Linked DNA regions of Homo sapiens: region 2 is linked to region 1. The links come from fine-mapping of genetic effects on gene expression. A gene starts in region 1. The other region holds a variant in brackets. All regions are shown on one strand. Distances are from middle to middle.

What was found.
Region 2: its variant is fine-mapped to the expression of ACE in lung (TOPMed, PIP above 0.99).

The regions. Positions count from the first base shown.
Region 1 is chr17:63,476,021-63,478,520 of GRCh38, reverse strand. It overlaps ACE (angiotensin I converting enzyme), which reads right to left and starts at 1,460. Exons shown (of 25, transcript NM_000789.4): 1 at 1,178-1,460; 2 at 423-590. The coding sequence starts at 1,426. RefSeq lists silencers at 951-1,010, 1,111-1,200.
Region 2 is chr17:63,497,806-63,500,809 of GRCh38, reverse strand. ACE (angiotensin I converting enzyme) reads right to left here. Exons shown (of 25, transcript NM_000789.4): 25 at 2,437-3,004. Among named protein-coding and RNA genes, the nearest start is that of ACE, 22 kb to the right of the region's middle. The variant C/T (reference allele first, on the strand shown) is at 1,922.

The DNA of each region.
Region 1 (2,500 bases):
CCCAGCTATTTTTTTTTTGTAGAGACGAGGTTTTGCCATGTTGGCCAGGCTGGTCTTGAACTCCTGGGCTCAAGCGATGCGCCCACCTCAGCCTCCCAAAGTGCTGGGATTACAGGCTTGAGCCACCACGCCCAGCCCTTCTCAACTCTTCCAAAGAAGCTCATAAACCAGCCTAGGGAGAAGTGTATTTGAATTTGGCTTCCTACTCCAGAATGCTTCCTTTAACAGAAAGTAACTCCCCACCCCATCTCCAAGAAAAATCAATGCTCAGAAAGCCATTCTGTGCTTACCTGGGCTTTCCCTTCTGTCAGGGCCCATGTGGATCCCAGGGTTCCTCCCTCCCTGATGGGCTGCTCTCCCCCGACCCCCACGATGGGGCACTAGGAGGCCGCCCCCGAGCTCTGCCTCAGCCCTCAGCCCACCTGCTGCCGCTTAGCCAGGGGCAGGTTGGCAGAGCCCAGGGTGCGCACAGCTCCGATGATCCTGCGCAGCTGCGGGTCCGTGAAGTTCTGCCAGATCGGTTCATACAGCTCCTTGGCCTTCTGGCCCCAGGCCTCCGCAAACTCCTGGCTGAGCAGGGCTGCTTCCTCCTATTGGGCACCAGGAGGGCAGGGAGGGTGTAGGACCCTGCTTAGATGCAGGCCATAAAGGAGAAGCCACGGTGCTGGGGGAGGGGAGGAAGGCCAAGGGCTTCCAGAGCCCGGGCCCTGGGGAGATCCCTGCGGGAGACCTTAGTTTGCGGAAGCCGCGCTTCCTCCTTCTGGAGGGAATCTGCCTCATGGGAATGGTGGAGCAGAAATTGGGACCAGAAAAGAGGCCGGGCGAGTGGAGGGTGGATGGACAGTGCAGTGCGGTGACGGTGACAGCGACAGCGTCCGGAGGTGAGAAGGCAGCTGCCCGAGAGCGCGGGGGCCCCAGAGCCAAGCCCAGCACCTTCGGCGAAGGCGGGCGCGGCCTGGGAGCAGCCACCCTCATCCATCCAACTCGTGCATGCTGGGAGCGCAGGCCGTGCGCGCAGCCCGGCGCTCGGGCCCCGCGGCTGACTGTCGGGGCGAGGGTCCGGGGTCGGGGTGGGGTTCGGGTCGGGGGCGCCAGCCTGCCCGCCCCACAAGCCGGCCGCGTGCTGTGATTGGCCGCCGCGGCCCCGCCCCGCCCCCGCCCGGGCCCGGGCGCCCACCTGGCGCCTTGCATTCTCCGCGGTGATGTTGGTGTCGTGCGCCCAGCTGGCGGCCACGCTCTGGAACAGCACCTGTTCGGCGCTGGAGTTGTAGCTCTGCGCGAAGAGCTGCGCCCCGGCCTCGTCAGCAGAAAAGTTGCCGGGCTGCAGCCCGGGGTCCAACGCCAGGGCGGGCTGCGGCGGCAGCAGCAACAGCAGCGGCAGCGGCAGCAGCAGCCCCGGCCCCCGGCGGCCCGAGGCGGCCCCCATGACGCGGTGCGCGGTGCTCGGCTCTGCCCCTTCTCCTGCGCCGCGGCCGCCCTGCGGGTTATAAAACCCGACACACCCCCGCCCCCGCCCCGCCGCGCTTCCTCCTCCGCTCCAGAGTCCCCAGCGGCGCGGGCCGAGGTTCCTGGCCCGCCCCGGGCAGGGGCGCGGGCCGGGGAGGGGCCGAGGTGCAGCCCGGGGGTGGCGGGATGGGGCTGGGTCGGGCTCCCGCAGAGGAAGCTGGAGAAAGGGCCTCCTCTCTTTAGAAGATGGGGACCCGGCAGTTTGCCGGAACACCCGAGCCTGCCCACCGTGCGGCCGCGCAGCCTCGGCCGGGGCCTGGGAGCCTAGCGGCCTCCGGCTCGATCTTCCCAGCCCGACCCCCCGGAGCCTCCCGCCTCCGGAGTGACAAGGCCGGGGCCCCAGGAGCTGTCCGCAGGCGCCGCTCGTGCGGCGGGGATGGGGCTGATCGGGCCTGGCCGGCTTCTTCACCAGGCCATGGTCGAGGGGCGGGGACGTCGCCTGCCGGGGGTAGGGGTGTGGCGGGGGGGAGAGGAGGGAGGCGGGGACCTTAGGTGTCTTGCAGGCGCCTCCGGGAGGTGCTGGAGGGGCTCAGGGCGGCCGGCACACCTGGGGCTTGGGGCTGCGAGGGAGGGGGAGCCACAGAGCGCAGGAGCTTTGGAGCGCCTGCCCTCTTTCCCCCCGAGGACACAGGCTGCCAGTCGCTCAGCAGAAAACATCACACACGATCCCAACAGAGTCCTAGAACCCGAGGCTAGCAGGCTTTGAGAGCGACACAAAGCCTCAGAGATGAGAACAACCCCCTCATTTTACAGATGAAGAAATTGCCGCTCAGGTTGAGAGGCTTGCTCCAAGTCACCTCAGGTCTCCACACTCCCCTGTGTTTTCCTGTCTCATCCACGTGTCCCTCAAAGTGACAAGTGTGGGGGAGGGAGGACAGTCTTGTCCTATTGGCGCACAGGGCGGTTGTGGAGGCCACCTCGGCACCATGGCGTCTGCTGCCAGAGGGGGGAAGCCCCTTGACCCTGGCAGAGGCCCGGCGGCGCAGTGGGAGGT
Region 2 (3,004 bases), 22 kb before region 1:
CTCTGTGTGCTCCCAGTAAGAAGACAGTTGACTGGCTGTGCAAGGACGTGTGGTGGGGAAGTTCCTGGAAGGCAGCTGGGAGATGGGAGTTTTCAGTCCAGCTCCGGCACCCAGTTGCCCCGAGTCCTCTTCCTGTCTCAAGTGAGAGGGCTGATCTGGACTTGGCTGATCTGGGGTTGTTATGAAACTAGCTTTCTCAGGAGACGATGCATTCATTATAAAGAGAAGACACTCTACTAGGACTTTGTACATCATCTCATTTCATCTTCATGGCAACGCTGAGAGGGTTGATAAGAACCGTAAGAAAGAAAATGCAGGCTGGGCGCGGTGGCTCACGCCTGTAATCCCAGCACTCTGGGAGGCCGAGGCAGGCAAATCACGAGGTCAGGAGATTGAGACCATCCTGGCTAACACGGTGAAACCCTGTCTCTACTAAAAATACAAAAAATTAACCGGGCGTGGTGGCTGGCGCCTGTAGTCCCAGCTACTCGGGAGGCTGAGGCAGGAGAATGGCGTGAACCCAGGAGGCCAAGCTTGCGGTGAGCCGAGATCACGCCACTGCACTCCAGCCTGGGTGACAGAGCGAGACTCCATCTCAAAAAAAAAAAAAAAAAAAGAAAAGAAAAGAAAATGCAGACTGCAAAAACAAACTGCCCAAGGTCACACAGGTGATAAGTGCAGAGGTGGGGTTAGCCACTTTTTCACTTATGTTAAAAGCCAGGGTGGGTGGGAAGGGGGTTAGGCAGACAGAGGAAGGTAGAGGGTGGGGAGGGCTGTGGGGATCAGAGAAACTGTCTGGCAGCCACCACCTGTGGCTAGCGTAGGTGAGAGCTGGTCTCCCAAGAGCGGCATTGGCAGGCATGGCACGGGGATGGGCTCAGCCTTCAGGGCCACCAGTAGAAAACACTGGGGTGGCCCCTCTTCCTGCTGTTACCGCCTCCTCTTCCTCTGCTACCTTCCAGGTATCCCCTGCCTCTCCCCACTCACCCAAGGAGGCAGAGGCAGGCATCTAAAGAATGATACTATTGGGCCGGGCGCGGTGGCTCATGCCTGTAATCCTAGCACTTTGAGAGGCTGAGGCGGGCGGATTGCCTGAGCTCAGGAGTTCAAGACCAGCCTGGGCAACATGGTGAAACCCCATCTCTACTAAAATACAAAAGAAATTAGCTGGGCATGGCGGCGTGCGCCTGAAGTAGTAGCCCAACTACTCGGGAGGCTGAGGCAGGAGAATCGCTTGAACTTGGGAGGTGGAGGTTGCAGTGAGCCGAGATCAGGCCACTGCACTCCAGCACTCCAGCCTGGGCGACAGAGCGAGACTCTGTTTGAAAACAAACAGAAAAAAGATACTATTTCAAAAGCCCAGAGGGTAAGGCTGGCCAGGCCAATGCAGTGTGGAGTTTCTCTTCCCCCAGCTGCAGTGCAGTCCTTTGCGTGTTGAAAGCTGGTGACCTCACGCGGCCCAGAAGCTCTGACAGGCAGCATGAACCGCTGTGGTTCATAAAAATAGGAAACGGGGGCCAGGCATGGTGGCTCATGCCTGTAATTCCAGCACTTTGGGAGGCCGAGGTGGGTGGATCACCTGAGGTCAGGAATTCGAGACCAGCCTGGCCAACATGATTAAACCCCATCTCTACTAAAAATACAAAAATTTAGCCAGGCATGGTGGTGGGCGCCTGTAATCCCAGCTACTCGGAAGGCTGAGGCAGGAGAATCGCTTGAAAGCCAGGAGGTGGAGGTTACAGTGAGCCGAGATCACACCACTGCACTCTAGCCTGGGCAACAAGAGCGAGACTCCATCTTAAAAAAAAAAAAAAGGCAAAGGGGGTCATATGATGATGACCTTTGTCTGGTAAACAAAGAGCTTTCAAAACAGGCTGGGAAAAGGGGGGATAATTCAAGAAGTCTTCATTGGTAGATGACT[C/T]GGAACCATTTAGAGGACATGTTTATAAATTCCATTGTCCTATGTAATCATAAACTTCCACCCTCTTTCAATCCTAAAATACCTCAGCCCCACATCCTGCCTTACAGAATGGGCCTGTAACAGCCAAGCCTGTGTACAACACACACACAGACACGGACACACAGAGACACGCACGGCACCTGGATTGGGGGGCAAAAGCTGTGGACTAAGGGGGACAGATATTGGGAGATGGACCTAGCTAGGGTGAAGACATCAGCAAAGCCCAGAAGAGACTCAGGGCTGAGGGTTTGACAGAGGGGCCCGGGTGGCTGGGGAGCCCCTGGCCCCAGCAAATGGACCAACTTCTATTGGCCAAGTTCGAAGTCTGGCATTTAAATATCAGAAAAACAGATCTAGTTGTATGAAGTGATAAAAGGATGTATGACTGTAAATATGGTGTGATCCCATTTAAAATACACATGTGCTGAGAAGAAGTCCGGCAAGTTGTACACCAAAACGTCAACAGGGCTTATCTCTTGACGTTGATATAAAGGGCTTTTATTTTCTTTACAGTTTTCTGTATTTTCCAAATTTCTACATAAACATACACATAAAAGTCATAAAAATGTCCCTTAAAATGACACTCCCTCCAATGCAGGGAGTGAGGAGGTGTGTGCTGGGACGCCAGCAGGGTGGCTGCTGGCAGCTAATCCCTGTGCAGGTGCAGCCACTGCTACACTCCAGCGTCTGAGGCCCCTCTGCACTGGCAGTGTTAGAATGGCTGTCTGAGAGCCAAGGCTGTTCACCCGAGCAGAGTCATGGAGCTGGTACAGGCAGGAGCCAAGGTAAGCACTAGGCTGGTGTGTGCCCTCCAGGGGGCACCCTCCTTGAAGCAGGCCCTCCAAGGTACTCGCCCCCTGAGGCAGCCGATAACAGCCGGAAGCCTTCCCCTGGGGGGACCTGGCCATTTGTGGAGCAGGGAAAGGCTCCACTGCCAGTGGAAATGTGAGGCCAGCAGCCCAGGATGTCTGCTTCCCAGAGTCCGCGTGGGTCAGTGCTTGGGCCAGACAGGGGCTGCCTGCGGTGGCAGGACAGTGGCGGGCT